Linked DNA regions of Homo sapiens: region 2 is linked to region 1. Evidence: fine-mapped expression QTL. Tissue or cell type: subcutaneous fat. Region 1 holds a variant in brackets; the other region holds the start of a gene. All regions are shown on one strand. Distances are between the middles of the regions.

Evidence for each region. PIP is the estimated chance that this variant, and not a neighbour inherited with it, causes the effect.
Region 2: CD27-AS1 starts here. The variant in region 1 is fine-mapped to the expression of CD27-AS1 in subcutaneous fat (FUSION, PIP 0.95).

What each region holds. Positions count from the first base shown.
Region 1 is chr12:6,425,429-6,433,426 of GRCh38, reverse strand. No RefSeq gene overlaps it. Among named protein-coding and RNA genes, the nearest start is that of CD27, 16 kb to the left of the region's middle. RefSeq lists enhancers at 6,210-6,449, 6,490-6,599. The variant G/A (reference allele first, on the strand shown) is at 3,625.
Region 2 is chr12:6,449,114-6,454,113 of GRCh38, reverse strand. CD27-AS1 (CD27 antisense RNA 1) reads left to right here and starts at 2,597. Exons shown (of 6, transcript NR_015382.2): 1 at 2,597-3,773. CD27 (CD27 molecule) reads right to left here. Exons shown (of 6, transcript NM_001242.5): 3 at 3,762-3,941; 4 at 3,484-3,573; 5 at 3,100-3,219; 6 at 2,401-2,846. The coding sequence ends at 2,722. It overlaps TAPBPL (TAP binding protein like), which reads right to left and starts at 2,072. Exons shown (of 7, transcript NM_018009.5): 1 at 1,802-2,072; 2 at 817-1,047; 3 at 398-667. The coding sequence starts at 1,865. RefSeq lists enhancers at 1,773-2,372, 2,803-2,962, 3,053-3,262.

The sequences.
Region 1 (7,998 bases):
AAAAATAGTTTAAATGGTAAATTTTATGTATATTTTACCACAATATAAATAAATAAATAGATAGAAAAACATGTTAAGTGATAGTGCACAAACACACAGAAGCAAGGCATAGAAAAGTACATACGATTCCATTTATAAAGTTCAAAAACAGGCAAAATGAAGCAGTTTGCTGTTCAGGGTGCACACAGATGGTAGAACTAGAAAGGAAAGTGAGGAAGTGATAGACACAAGCCAGAGCTGCTTCCCCCGGTGAGGAGGGAAGGTGTGATCAGGGCGCTTCGAAGGTTCTACTAATCTTCTGATCTGAACGTGGGTTTTCAATGTGTTATTTTTATGTACTATTTTACATATCTTAGTTCACAATAAAAAGTACAAATTATATTTTAAAAATTGGAGGTGAAAATGAAAAAAAATGGAAAATTATAGAGAAGACTCAGGTTCCCTTTGATCAATCTCCTCCCCCAATCCCTGGTCCTCTCCCTACCTCCTTAGTGTAGGCACTGTTTTCAGATTATTGAGTATTCTTCCAGAACTTTCCTAGACAAAAAAGTTATGTGTGTTGTTGTGGGTGTTTTTTGTTTTTTGTTTTTGTTTTTGTTTTTTGACAGAGTCTCTGTTGCCAAGGCTGGAGTGCAGTGGCACATTCTCAGCTCACTGCAGTCTCCACCTCCTGGGTTCAAGTGATTCTCCTGCCTCAGCCACCCAAGCAGCTGGGACCACAGGTGTGCACACCCGGCTAATTTTTGTATTTTTAGTAGAGATGGGGTTTCACCATGTTGGCCAGGCTGGTCTTGAACTCCTGACCTCAATTGATCCAGCTGTCTCAGCCTCCCACAGTGCTGAGATTACAGGCATGAGCCACTGTGGTAGGCATATGTTTATGTTTTTAAAAATTATTTTCTTTCCTTCTTATTTTTTGAGGTGGAGTCTCGCTCTTGTTGTCCAGGCTGGAGTGCAATGGCATGATCTCGGCTCACTGCAACCTTCACCTCCTGGGTTCAAGCAATTCTCCCATCTCAGCCTCCCGAGTAGCTGAGATTATAGGCGCCCCCCACCACATCTGGCTAATTTTTATATTTTAGTAGACATAGGGTTTCACCATGTTGGTCAGGCTGGTCTTGAACTCCTGACCTCAGGTGATCCGCCCATCTCGGCCTCCTGAAGTGCTGGGATTATAGGCGTAAGCCACTATGCCCGGCCTGTTTGTTTGTTTGTTTGTTTTTGTTTTTGTTTTGAGACAGAGTCTCGCTCTGTCACCAGGTTGGAGTGCAATAGCATGATCTTGCCTCACCGCAACCTCCGCCTCCCAGGTTCAAGCGATTCTCCTGCATCAACCTCCCGAGTAGCTGGAATTACAGGTGCATGCCACCATGCCCAGCTAATTTTTGTATTTTTAGTAGAGATGGGGTTTTGCTATGTTGGCCAGGATGGTCTCGATCTCCTGACCTCGTGATCCACCTGCCTCAGCCTCCCAAAGTGCTGGGATTACAGGCGTGAGCCACCACGCCCGGCCAGCCTGTTTTAAAAAATTATTTTATTTTCTACTTAAAATGTTATTAAGCAATAATCAAATATTTCTTACTCTGATTTCTTGGCCCCACTCCTCCTGAGGATTCTCTGCTTGAATTTTTCAGAGCAAGGGCGACCCCTGTCTTAGGAGAGGTAGGAGAGTGCCTCATGGACAGCATCTGGTTGTTCCTTCTCCCTGGCAAGGGGCCTGCCTCTCTTTTTCATACCTGAGATGACCGACAGCAGTAACATCTGACTTTGTCTTTTCCTTTCTTATTTGGGGCATCGCAGGCTACCTATATTTGCTGAAGGAAATCTTACACAAAGCTGCGATAATTCTAGCACAGAGCAAGAAATAGAGCCTAAGGAACAAACCACCCATTTTCTCTCCACTCGGTAAAAAATTATCTCTGGGAAATGAAATAGCCCAAGTCTGGCAGTTCCATGTTCTTCTTCTTTTTGTGTTTTAGAGACAGCCTTGCTTACTCACCCAGGCTGGAGTGCAGTGGCACAATCATGGCTCACTGTAGCCTCGAATTCCTGGGCTCAAGAGATCTTTCTACCTCAGCCTCCAGAGTATCTAGGACCAGAGGTGCACACTACCACGCCTGACTGATTTTTAATTTTATGTAGAGACTGGGTCTCTTTATGTTTCTCAGGCTGGTCTCAAATTCCTGGCCTCAAGAAATCCTTCCACCCCAGCCTCTCAAAGTGCTGAGATTACAGGCATGAACCACTGCCCCTGGTCCATGTTCTTCTTATATTGCTTTTCTAAAGTACTTCTTTTTGCAGATAGAGAAAGGCTTGTTAACTGGCCTCATGACTCAGCCTGCCAGGCACAATTGTCCATCGGCCCCAGCACAGTTGTATTTTTGTGTTTGTTTTGTTCTTTCCATAAATGATATACAGTATGTATCCTACGATTTGCTTTTCGTGCTTTTAATCCAGTTATATGTCTTGGAGATCATTTCATTTTATACTTCTAGAACTACTCGTTTCGTTAAATAGAGAATGGATGTGCAGAGGCTTTTTAGCCATTCTCCTGGTTCCCGAATACTTAGGTTGTTCCCAACAATGCACTATCGTAAGTGGTGTTGCATAAACATCTCATACTTCGCTGTGCATGTGGGAGTGTCTCTCTAGAATAAGTGCGGGGCATCGGAATCGCTGAGTCACAGGGTGTGCACATTTTTCACTTTAACAGATGCTGGCGAGTTGCCCTCCAGAGTGGCCCTACCAATTCACACTCCCACCAGCAGTGGAATGATAGCACATATTTCCTCACGTCCTGCCAGGCTTTCGTATTAGCAAACTGTTTTTGAGCATCTCATTGGAGGAAAGTGCTGTCTCATTGTTTCAGTGTGCACTCTTCCCATTCCCGGGGAGGCTGAGCGTCTTTCCATGATCGCGCTGTTTGTGTTTCCTCTTTTGTGACCAAGGCCTTTTTACCCTTATGTCACCACCAGTGTTCTGAAGTCCACCCTTGGCTCTCCCCCACAGCAATCTTGTCCTCCAGACCCAACCTGCATTGCCTCTGCCAATCACAGGGGTGCCAAACATGGTATACACTTGCCATCTGCCCTGGGGGCTGAAAAAAGCCTCGTGGTGACAGGGGAGATCTCTGCTGTCCCTCCCTTACTAATGTCAGGGGACTTCAGACCTCCACAGAGGGTGTGTCCTTTACCTCACTTGTCACACGGCAGCTGGGACTTGCGTGACCCCTAAACTCCTTCTGCTTCAGCATTTGATGACCCCCCAAACTGCACTGACCTCCAGCCCAAACTGAAGGGATCCCTGGTGCCTGTTGACTTTTACTGAGATGAAATGAATCATTTTAATAATTTAAAAATGTACAATTCAGTGGCTAGACTTTTACTGAGATAAAATGAATCATTTTCATCATTTAAAAATGTGCAATTCAGTGCTTTTACTATATTCACAAAGATGTGCAAATATCACAGATACATTTCTATTTTTGAAAAAGTTATAACTACCCTAGTTGGTGTGAAGTGGTATCTTATTGTGGTTTTGATTTGTATTTCACTAAGACTAATGATGTTGAGAATCTTCTTATGTGCTCATCGCCATTTGTATATTTTCTTTGGAGAAATGTCT[G/A]TTCAAGTCCTTTGCCCGTGTTTAAATTAAATTATTTGTGTCTTTTGTTGCTGAGTTGCAAGAGTTTTTTTTTTTTTCTTTTTGATATTATGAATTCTAGACCTTACTAGATAAGTGATTTGAAAATATTTTCTCTGGCCCGGGGCGGGGGCTCACACCTGTAATTCCAGCACTTTGGGAGGCCGAGGCGGGCAGATCACGAGGTCAGGAGATCGAGACCATCCTGGCTAACACAGTGAAACCCCGTCTCTACTAAAAATTAAAAAAAAAAAAAAAAAAAATTTAGCCAGGCGTTGTGGCGGGCGCCTGTAGTCCCAGCTACTCGGGAGGCTGAGGCAGGAGCATGGTGTGGAACCCGGGAGGCAGAGTTTGCAGTGAGCCGAGATCGCACAACTGAACTCCAGCCTGGGCGATAGAGCGAGACTCCGTCTCAGAAAAAAAAAAAAAAAAATTTATCCCATACTGTGGGTTGTCTTTTTACCTTCTTAATAGTGCCCTTTGATGCATAAAAATTTCACATTTTGGGCCGGGCATGGTGGCTCATGCCTGTAATCCCAGCACTTTGGGAGGCCAAGGCGGGCGGATCACGAAGTCAGGAGATGGAGACCAGCCTGGCCAATATGCTGAAACCCCGTCTCTTAAAAATACAAAAAATTAGCCGGGCGTGGTGGCGGGCGCCTGTAGTCCCAGCTACTCGGGAGGCTGAGGCAGGAGAATGGCGTGAACCCAGGAGGCGGAGCTTGCAGTGAGCAGAGATCACGCCACTGCACTCCAGCCTGGGAGACAGAGCGAGACTCCGTCTCAAAAAAAAAAAAAAAAGTTTCACATTTTGATGAAGTCCAGTTTATCTACTGTTTCTTTTGTTGCCTGTGCTTTTGGCATCATATTTGAGAAACTGTTGCCGAATCCAAACTCATACAGATTTTCACTTATATTTCCCTCTAAGAGTTTTATAGTTTTAACTCTTAAATTTAGTTCTTTGATTTATTTTGAGTTAAATTTTTTATCTGGTTTTAGGTAGGGGTCCAACTTCATTCTTTTACTTGTGGATATGCAGTTGTCCTAGCACTGCTTCTTGAAAAGACTATTCTTTTCACACAGAATGGTCTTGGCACCCTTGCTGAAATTAATTGACAATAGATGTATGGGTTGATTTCTGGACTCTAAATTGTATTCCATTGATCTGTATGTCTGTCTTTAGGTCAATACCATGGTTTTGATTACTGTAGCTTTATAGTAAGTTTCGAAATTGGGACTTCAACTTCGTTCTTCTTTTTCAAAATTATTTTGGCTACTCTGTGTCCCTTGCATTTGCATGTGAATTTTAAGATCAGCTTGTCCATTTATGCAAAAAAGAAGGCAGTTAGAATTTCGATGGGGATTGCATAGAGTCTGTAGATGAAATTGGGAAATATTGTTACCTTCAGTCCATGAACACAGATGTCTTTCCATTTATTTAGGATTTCTTTAATGTCTTTCAACAATGTTTTCTAGTTTTCAGTGTATGAGTCTTGCACTTTCTTTGTTAAATGTATACCAAGTTTTTTTTTTTTTTTCTCGAGACAGAGTCTCACTCTGTTGTCCAGGCTGGAGTGCAGCGGCCCAATCTCAGCTCACTGCAGCCTCTGCTTCCCAGGTTCAAGCGATTCTGCAGCCTCAGCCTCCCGAGTAGCTGGGATTATAGGTGCCTGCCACCACGCCTGGCTAATTTTTTGTATTTTTAGTAGAGACAGGGTTTTATCATGTCGGCCAGTCTGGTCTCGAACTCTTGACCTCAGGTGATCCGCCTGCCTTGGCCTCCCAAAATGTGGGAATTACAGATGTGAGCCACCGCACCTGGCCAATGTATGCCTAAGTATTTATTCTTTTTGATGCTATTGTAAATTGAGTTGTTTTTCCTAATTTCATTTTTTTTTTTTTTTGAGATGGAGTTTCGCTCTTGTTGCCCAGGCTGGAGTGCAATGGCGCAGTCTCGGCTCATTGCAATCTCCACCTCCTGGGTTCAAGTGATTCTCCTGCCTCAGCCTCCTGAATAGCTGGGATTACAGGCATGCGCCACACATGCCCAGCTAATTTTGTGTTTTTAGTAGAGACTGGGTTTTACCATCATGGTTAGGCTGGTCTCAAACTCCTGACCTCAGGTGATCCCGCCTGCCTCGGCCTCCCAAAGTGCTAGGATTACAAGCATGAGCCACTGTGCCCGGCCCCTAATTTCAATTTCATTTTCTTTCTTTCTTTTTTTCTTCTTCTTTTTTTTTTTTTAGACAGTGTCTCGCTCTGTCACCCAGACTGAGTGGGGAGTGCAGTGGTGCAACCTCGGCTCACTGCAGCCTGCACTTCCCGGGTTCAAGTGATCCTCCCACTTCAGCCTCCCGAGTAGCTGGGACTACAGGTGCATGCCATCATGCCTGTCTACTTTTTGTATTTTTTTGAAGACATGTGGTTTTGCCATGTTGCCCAGGCTGGTCTGGAACTCCTGGGCTCAAGTGATCCACCCGCCTTGGACTCTCAAAATGATTACAGGTGTGAGCCACTGCGCCCAGCCCCGAATTTCATTTTCAAGTTGCTCTTTGCCCATGTAGCAGTTGACATTTGAAGAAGGCAGTTGTTTTCTCCAGAGTTGGAAGGTGGCACCTTGAGGTGTAGGCGTGTTGCTATGACACCCTGTGGGCCGTTGCTGGGGCTCTCTTGTGACTTTTCTGAAGTCACGGATGGAGAGTTTGACTCTGTGACACAAAGGGAAACATGTCTGACTAATCTTTCCCACACTCCCTTTGCCTCTGATGGCTCCCTCGGCTAGGAGAGGAGAGGAAGAGAGTGGGTTGGTGGGGCCTCACCCTTTATTACAGGTGCTTCCTCTGACCCTTCTCTTCTGCAGGATTTTTGGGGCAGCTACTGAAGGGACAGGCACTCCCAAAGGGCAAGGGCTGTGGCAGCCTTCTCTTTTACCCATAAGTTGGCCAGAATTGATGCTGTCTACTTGTTTTTTTTGTTTGTTTGTTTTGTTTTGTTTTTTGGGAGATGGAGCCTCCCTCTGTCACCCAGGCTGGAGTTCTCTCACCCAGGCTGGAGTGCAGTGGCGCGATCTTGGCTCACTGCAACTTCTGCCTCAGCCTTGGGTTCGGGTTCAAACAATTCTCATGCCTCAGCCTCCCAAGTAGCTGGGACCCCAGGCACACACCATCATCCCTGCTTAATTGTTTTGTATTTTTAGTAGAGATGGGGTTTCGCCGTGTTGGCCAGGCTGGTCTTGAACTCCTGGTCTCAAGTTATCTGCCCACCTCGGTCTTTCATTGTGCTAGGATTACAGGTGTGAGCCACCGCACCCGGCCTGATGCTCCCTACTTTGATGTGCATAGAGGAATGTTGCAGGCCACAGGCATAGGCAGGGTCCTGGTGGCTGGTGATGTCAGAGAAGCCTGGGGGGGAAGTCCAAGGATCAATCAGCTGGTGAAAATCTGAAGGAGCGGAGGATGATTCGAGTAAATCTGTGCTGCTTGGCCTGCGTCCAAGGCCGTCTCTCTGCTCAGTCACTTGCTGGCTGCCCAGTTGCTCAGGCTCCGTGGGTTTGTTTCCACTGTCACATGGGGATGCAGATGCTGGCCTCGGAGGGCGGGTGTGAGCAGCCATGTTTGGTAACTCGGGTGAATGCCCTGCTAGGACTTGATGCAGAAGAGGTGCCAGTCAGTGTTCACTGGAGTATGACTTGATCACCAGCAACTTCCTTCTTGACTGGGATAGGGCAACATGAGAGCTGAGAGTTCCTTAAGTGGGGCCGTGCTCAGAATGGAAGGGAAAGAGTGAAGAAATCTACTAGGAAGAGGTGTATGGGAGGCGTATGCGACAAATCTCACCTTTATGAGAGCTCAGCTAGTCAGTGGGAGCTTTAGGTTGAACGGTGTGGGTGCTTCTAGGGCTGAGGAGACCCCATCATATTTTCACGCCAAAGGAATGGGGTGGGCCGGATGGGGAGAGCTGCAAGAAGCAGGATGTTGCAAGTTTGTGTGGTTTGTTTGTTTCTTTTGTTTTGTGAGACAGGGTCTGGCTCTGTTGCCCAGGCTAGAGTGTAGTGGTGTGATCACGGCTCACTGTAGCCTCGAACTCCTCGCCTCAAGCAGTCCTCCCACCTCAGCCTCCCGAGTAGCTGGAACTACAGGCGCACGCCATGAAGCCCAGCTAGTTTTTGCATTTTTACTAGGGACAGGGTTTCACCAGGTTGTCCAGGCTGGTCTTGAACTCCTGGGCTCAAAGCGATCTGCCCGCCTCAGTCTTCCAAAGTGCTAGGATTACAGGCATGAGCCACCATGCCCGGCAATTATACATTTTAAATATTAATATAATAATGAGGCTAATCTATAATACTTCTATGTCAAA
Region 2 (5,000 bases), 22 kb before region 1:
GATTTGTTCCCTTTCTTCTTCTGTGCCCCATATCTTACCACTTTAGAAAAGCAAAACTTTCTGTGACTTGCTTTTCTTTTCTTTTCTTTTTTTTTTTTGAGATGGAGTTTCGCTCTTGTTGCCCAGGCTGAAGTGCCATGGTGTGATCTCGGCTCACCGCAACCTCTGCCTTCCGGGTTCAAGCGATTCTCCTGCCTCAGCCTCCCTCGTAGCTGGGATTACAGGCACCCGCCACCATGCCCGGCTAATTTTGGTATTAGTAGAGACGGGGTTTCACCGTGTTGACCAGGCTGATCTCAAACTCCTGACCTCAGGTGATCCACCGACCTCGGTATCCCAAAATTCTGGAATTACAGGCGTGAGCCACCACACCTGGCCTTGCTTTTCATTTTCTTACCTGCAGTTCGCACAGTCCCCTGGGGGCTCAGTGGCAAGTTCAGCGTCGGGTGCCAGAGCGCCTCATTCTTGGTGACCCTGGGAGTCTTCATCACCAAGGAGATGCTAGGTCCCCCTCCAGAGACCTGCATGTTGGCCATGAACCAAGCTGCTGTCTTAACAGTGGTCTCTGTCATCTGGAGAAAGTAGCGGGAGATCTCACAGGTCACCTCCTTCCCACTGCAGTCAGCATGGAGCAAGGCCTCGGCCTGGGGAATCTGGACCAGGTCCACTGGGGAGAAGCAGGGCACACACAGAGGGCAAATTAGCGTGAGAACACCAGGGCCAACGGGAGGCAGTATGTGTGGCTGTAATCGGGACCTGGGCTGTCCTGGTGGAGGGAGCCCGGGAGGACCAAGGACACAGGTGGAAGGCTTTTACCTGAGGCCTCAAAGATAATAGGTGGGTCATCTTGGGCCAGTGTGCCCCCTTGGAAATCGGTGAAGTCCTCCAGGGAGCCATCGTCCAGCACTGGCACCTGCTTCAGCACAAGGGAGGCCCTTGCCCTGTCCTCACTGCTGGCGAGAGCTCCACGGTGCGCACCGTCCTTCGCCAGGAAGCAGTCTAGGACCACGTCCACTGCCCGCCACTGCCCCTCTGCTGGGTGGGGCTCTGCAGACAAAGGCTGGGGTGAGCACCGCCTTCCCCAGAAAGCTACTCCACACTTGCTTCCTGCCCCCGCCCTCAAGCTGTGGAGTCATCAAAGGGTAAAAGTTGCCATCCAAGATCCTAGCTGTTTCTGTGTCCCTCTATTCTCCCGTCATCCCCAAACCAGCTTTCTGGAGAGCACCTGCTAGTCCAGGCAAATACTTCTTGGTGAGAGTTAAAGTCCTGGATTTGCCTTGCTCAGAGGAGTTTATGCTTGCATTTCCAACTGTTGAATAAAAGACTATCTTTTCAGTCAAAGGAATTCTCAGAAAACAAGCAAGTGCCACCGCAGAGAGAGGAGACTGGACAGTTACTGTTGCTGGGGCACTGACAGCCTGCACTGCTTTCTCCCATTTCGGGTAGCCTTCCCCTCCCCCGCCTTCAAGGTCACCTTCCAAGTGATTTCCTCACCTGGGGAGTCCTTTCCTCTTCTGAAGTGTCAGCTCCCAGGCCAGTGCCCTCTCTGTAGGACAGTGGCTCCTGACCACAGCCACAGAGGCAGCCCCTCTTTAGCATTTTCCCTGTGGAGTCCCCACCCTCCCTCCACACACACTATTGGTTCCTTCCTTTGCCAGCCGCTGAGCCTTTCCCCTGTTGGGCTTAGAAGGCGATGGGGTCATCCCCGGCCCCTTTGCTCTTCTGGAATCTCGGGGAGGGTGGCACCCTGGGGCTTCAGTAGCTCTTCTCCCAGCCAGCTCTCCCCGACTCCCAGACTCACTGGTTTCTGCTGCTCCAGATAGAGCCAGGCAGAGCAGCAGGCACCAGCCCTCCTGTGTGCCCATGGAGGCTGCTCTCGAGTTCCCTCCTTGCCCACCGCCCTTCTCCACAGTCCTACGCTGCTTGCGAGGCCCGGCGGAAGAAGGGGGCTCTCCAAGCACACCTGGCAGCCTGCAGCCTTTAGGTTTCTTCCCTGTTCCCTCTGCTGCCGACTTTTCTTTCACTTTCACTTAGAGCAAGATGGCAGCCCGCGTCCCTGTGTGAAGCCGTCTGCAGCAGCTGCCAGAGCCCTGCTTGCTGTTTCCTTTCTCACCACCCACCTCACCCGGAAATCCCCTGGTGATTTCAAGACCTGACCTCTGCACCCTTTTGCTCCCCACCTGTCCCAAAAAAGTGGAGCTATAACTGTGGGAAAAGGGGATCTGAAGTCAGACACAGGATCCACAGTAGCCTGGGGACCTTTCTCACCCCCGCCCTTAAGCAGGCCCCAACATAACCGGCTGAGAAACCTCCTCTGCCAGATCCTGACCTGAGCCAGGAGGCGGCCAGGAAACTGGATTTTGGGACTGGGATTTCAGAGAGGAAGCTGGAGAGCTGCAGGGTGGTCATCTGTCACTTTATTTTGCCCGTCTTGTAGCATGTGGGTCTTTCGCAGCAGGAAGTGTGTTTTACAACCAGAGCCCCCGCCCTCCTGCAGCGCAGGCGCAGCTGGCTGGGCTCCTGCTTCCCACTCTCCACCTCATCCATATTTGTCCTCGTCCCTGCCAGTCTCGAAAAGGCACTCTGTCACGTGTACACAGGAAAGGGCCCTGACAAGAGGATGGGACTGCAGTTGTGGCTGCCAGGTCTCACTCTCCCTTGGATGGTCGGCGGGGTGGGGGTGGAGGCCAGGGCTGTAGTGCAGCTCCCGCAGGTGCTGGCTCAGGGGGAGCAGGCAGGCTCCGGTTTTCGGTAATCCTCCTGGATGGGGATGGTGCTGCCCTCCTCCTCCCTGGGGCAGCTGTAATGACAAGGCTCTGCAGGCTCCACAGGACTTTCTCCTTTGTCTGCAGAAGGAGATCCGATGAGTCTTGGCCAGCAGTGGGGGCAGGGGGAGACGGGAGAAGGAGATGGGTAGAGGCGGGTGCGCTTGGGGGAGGGGTGTCAGGAGCACGCCAGCTAAGGGGAGAGAAGGGGTAGGACCAAGGCTGGTGAAGTGGAGCTGGTGGGTTTCAGTGAGATTCCAGGCGTGGGCAGTGGGGTTGAGCCAGTGGGGTGTGGTGCAGGGGCAGGACCGGAGGCCTGTGTTCTGTCTCTTACTTGATCTATATTTCCTTCGTTGATGGAGGAACAGGGCCCCGGCCAGGGTGAAAACAAGGAACATTCCAGAGAAGATCACAAGGATGCGAATAAAATCGGAGCTGCACAGGGATCTTTGGGCTGTAATAGGAGGGGACACACAGGGGTTAGGGGAGGGTCTAGCCCTTGGCTCCCTCAGCCCAGCCCTCCTGTCACCTTGCCTCTCCCCTTTCCCCCACCTTATTCTATCCCACCCGCCACCGTTGGCCAACTCCTCTCCTAAACAGTGGACTCTGCTTTTTCCCCTCCTCTTATCCCTAATCCTAGGAGCTTTCTGTCTGGCTTCCCTCCTGGCCCCTCGTGTATGCATTCTCTCTAGCGGTGGGGATTAAGGAGAAAACTCACGTGGCCAGTGGGTAGAGAGAGTCCGGGCAGGCAGCTGCCTGAAGTCAGCCAGAGTCTGCATGTGCCCAGCTGTCCTGGCCTCCAGCATCTCTGGAAAAACAGAGACAGAATGAGTAGCAGCAGGGGACCCCATAGGGCACATCTGAAGGCCTGAGAGGTGCTGGATGGGATGGGAAGGCAGAAACAGGCTGACCTTATCTAGGGGTAGGAGTGGGGAGTACTGGTTGGGGTATCACCGCTACCCCACGTGATGGCACAGAGAGTTGCCTGGAACTTACCACTGACATAAGGTAAGTGGGTGGGCTGAGGGTGTGGGCTCAGGGCCTGAGACGACCGAGCGGTCAGCGAAGGGTTTGGAAGAGGATCACACTCGGTGCACTCCTTGTCCCTGCACTGCCAGCCATTGCGACAGGCACACTCAGCATTGGCAGTGATGGTGCAGTTGCGAACGAGAAGACCTGGGGGAAGAGAGGCCCAGGGAGCATAGGACACTCAGACCTGTGGAGACCTTCAAGGTCCACTTGCTTCATCCCCCAACCCCCATCCCAGGCCCACCTCTAGGGACGTGCTTCCCTTTCCATTCCCACCCCTGCAAAGGCCTGCCCTTTGCTCACGGTCCCCCAATGCCTTTGCCATTATTATTGTTATTAAAGAAGAAAGTTGGACCTTTCAGAAGGAAGATTCATGGGTTCAGACATAGAAACCATGAAAAGTAGAAAGAGCTTATATGACTTTCTCTTGTACTCCCTGATACATTTTTTATTTTTTATTTATTTTTTTGAGATGGAGTCTCGCTCTTGTTGCCGAGGCTGGAGTGCAATGGCGTGACCTTGGCTCGTTGCAACCTCTGCCTCCCGGGTTCAAGCAATTCTCCTGCCTCAGCCTCCCAAGTAGCTGGGATTACAGGTGTGTGCCACCACACCCGGCTAATTTTTTGTATTTTTAGTAGAGACGGGGTTTTACTGTATTGGCCAGGCTGGTATTAAACTCCTGACCTCAGGTGATGCACCAGCCTCAGCCTCCCAAAGTGTTGGGATTACAGGCGTGAGCCACTGTGCTCGGCCCCAATACTTTAATAACTTTTAATTAAAGTATAATATACGTACAGAGAGGCACGCATGATTGTAAAGCTTAAGAATTTGTACAAATTTGGCTCACAGGCATAACCAGCAGCAGATCAACAAATATAAAATAGCCGGGTGAGGCAGGGAATTGCTTGAACCCGGGAGGTGGAAGTTGCAGTGAGCCGAGATCACGCCACTGCACTCCAGCCTGGGCAACAGAGTGAAACTCCGTCTCAAAAAAAAAAAAAAAAGAAAAGAAAGAAAGAAAATAGCCAGGTGCAGTGGCTTACGCCTGTAATCCCAGCACTTTGGGAGGTTGAGGTGGGTGGATTGCTTGAGCTCAGGAGTTTGAGACCAGCCTGGCCAACATGGTGAAACCCCGTCTCTACAAAAAATACAAAAATTAGCTGGGTGTGGTGGTGCACACCTGTAGGCCCAAGCTACTGGGGAGGC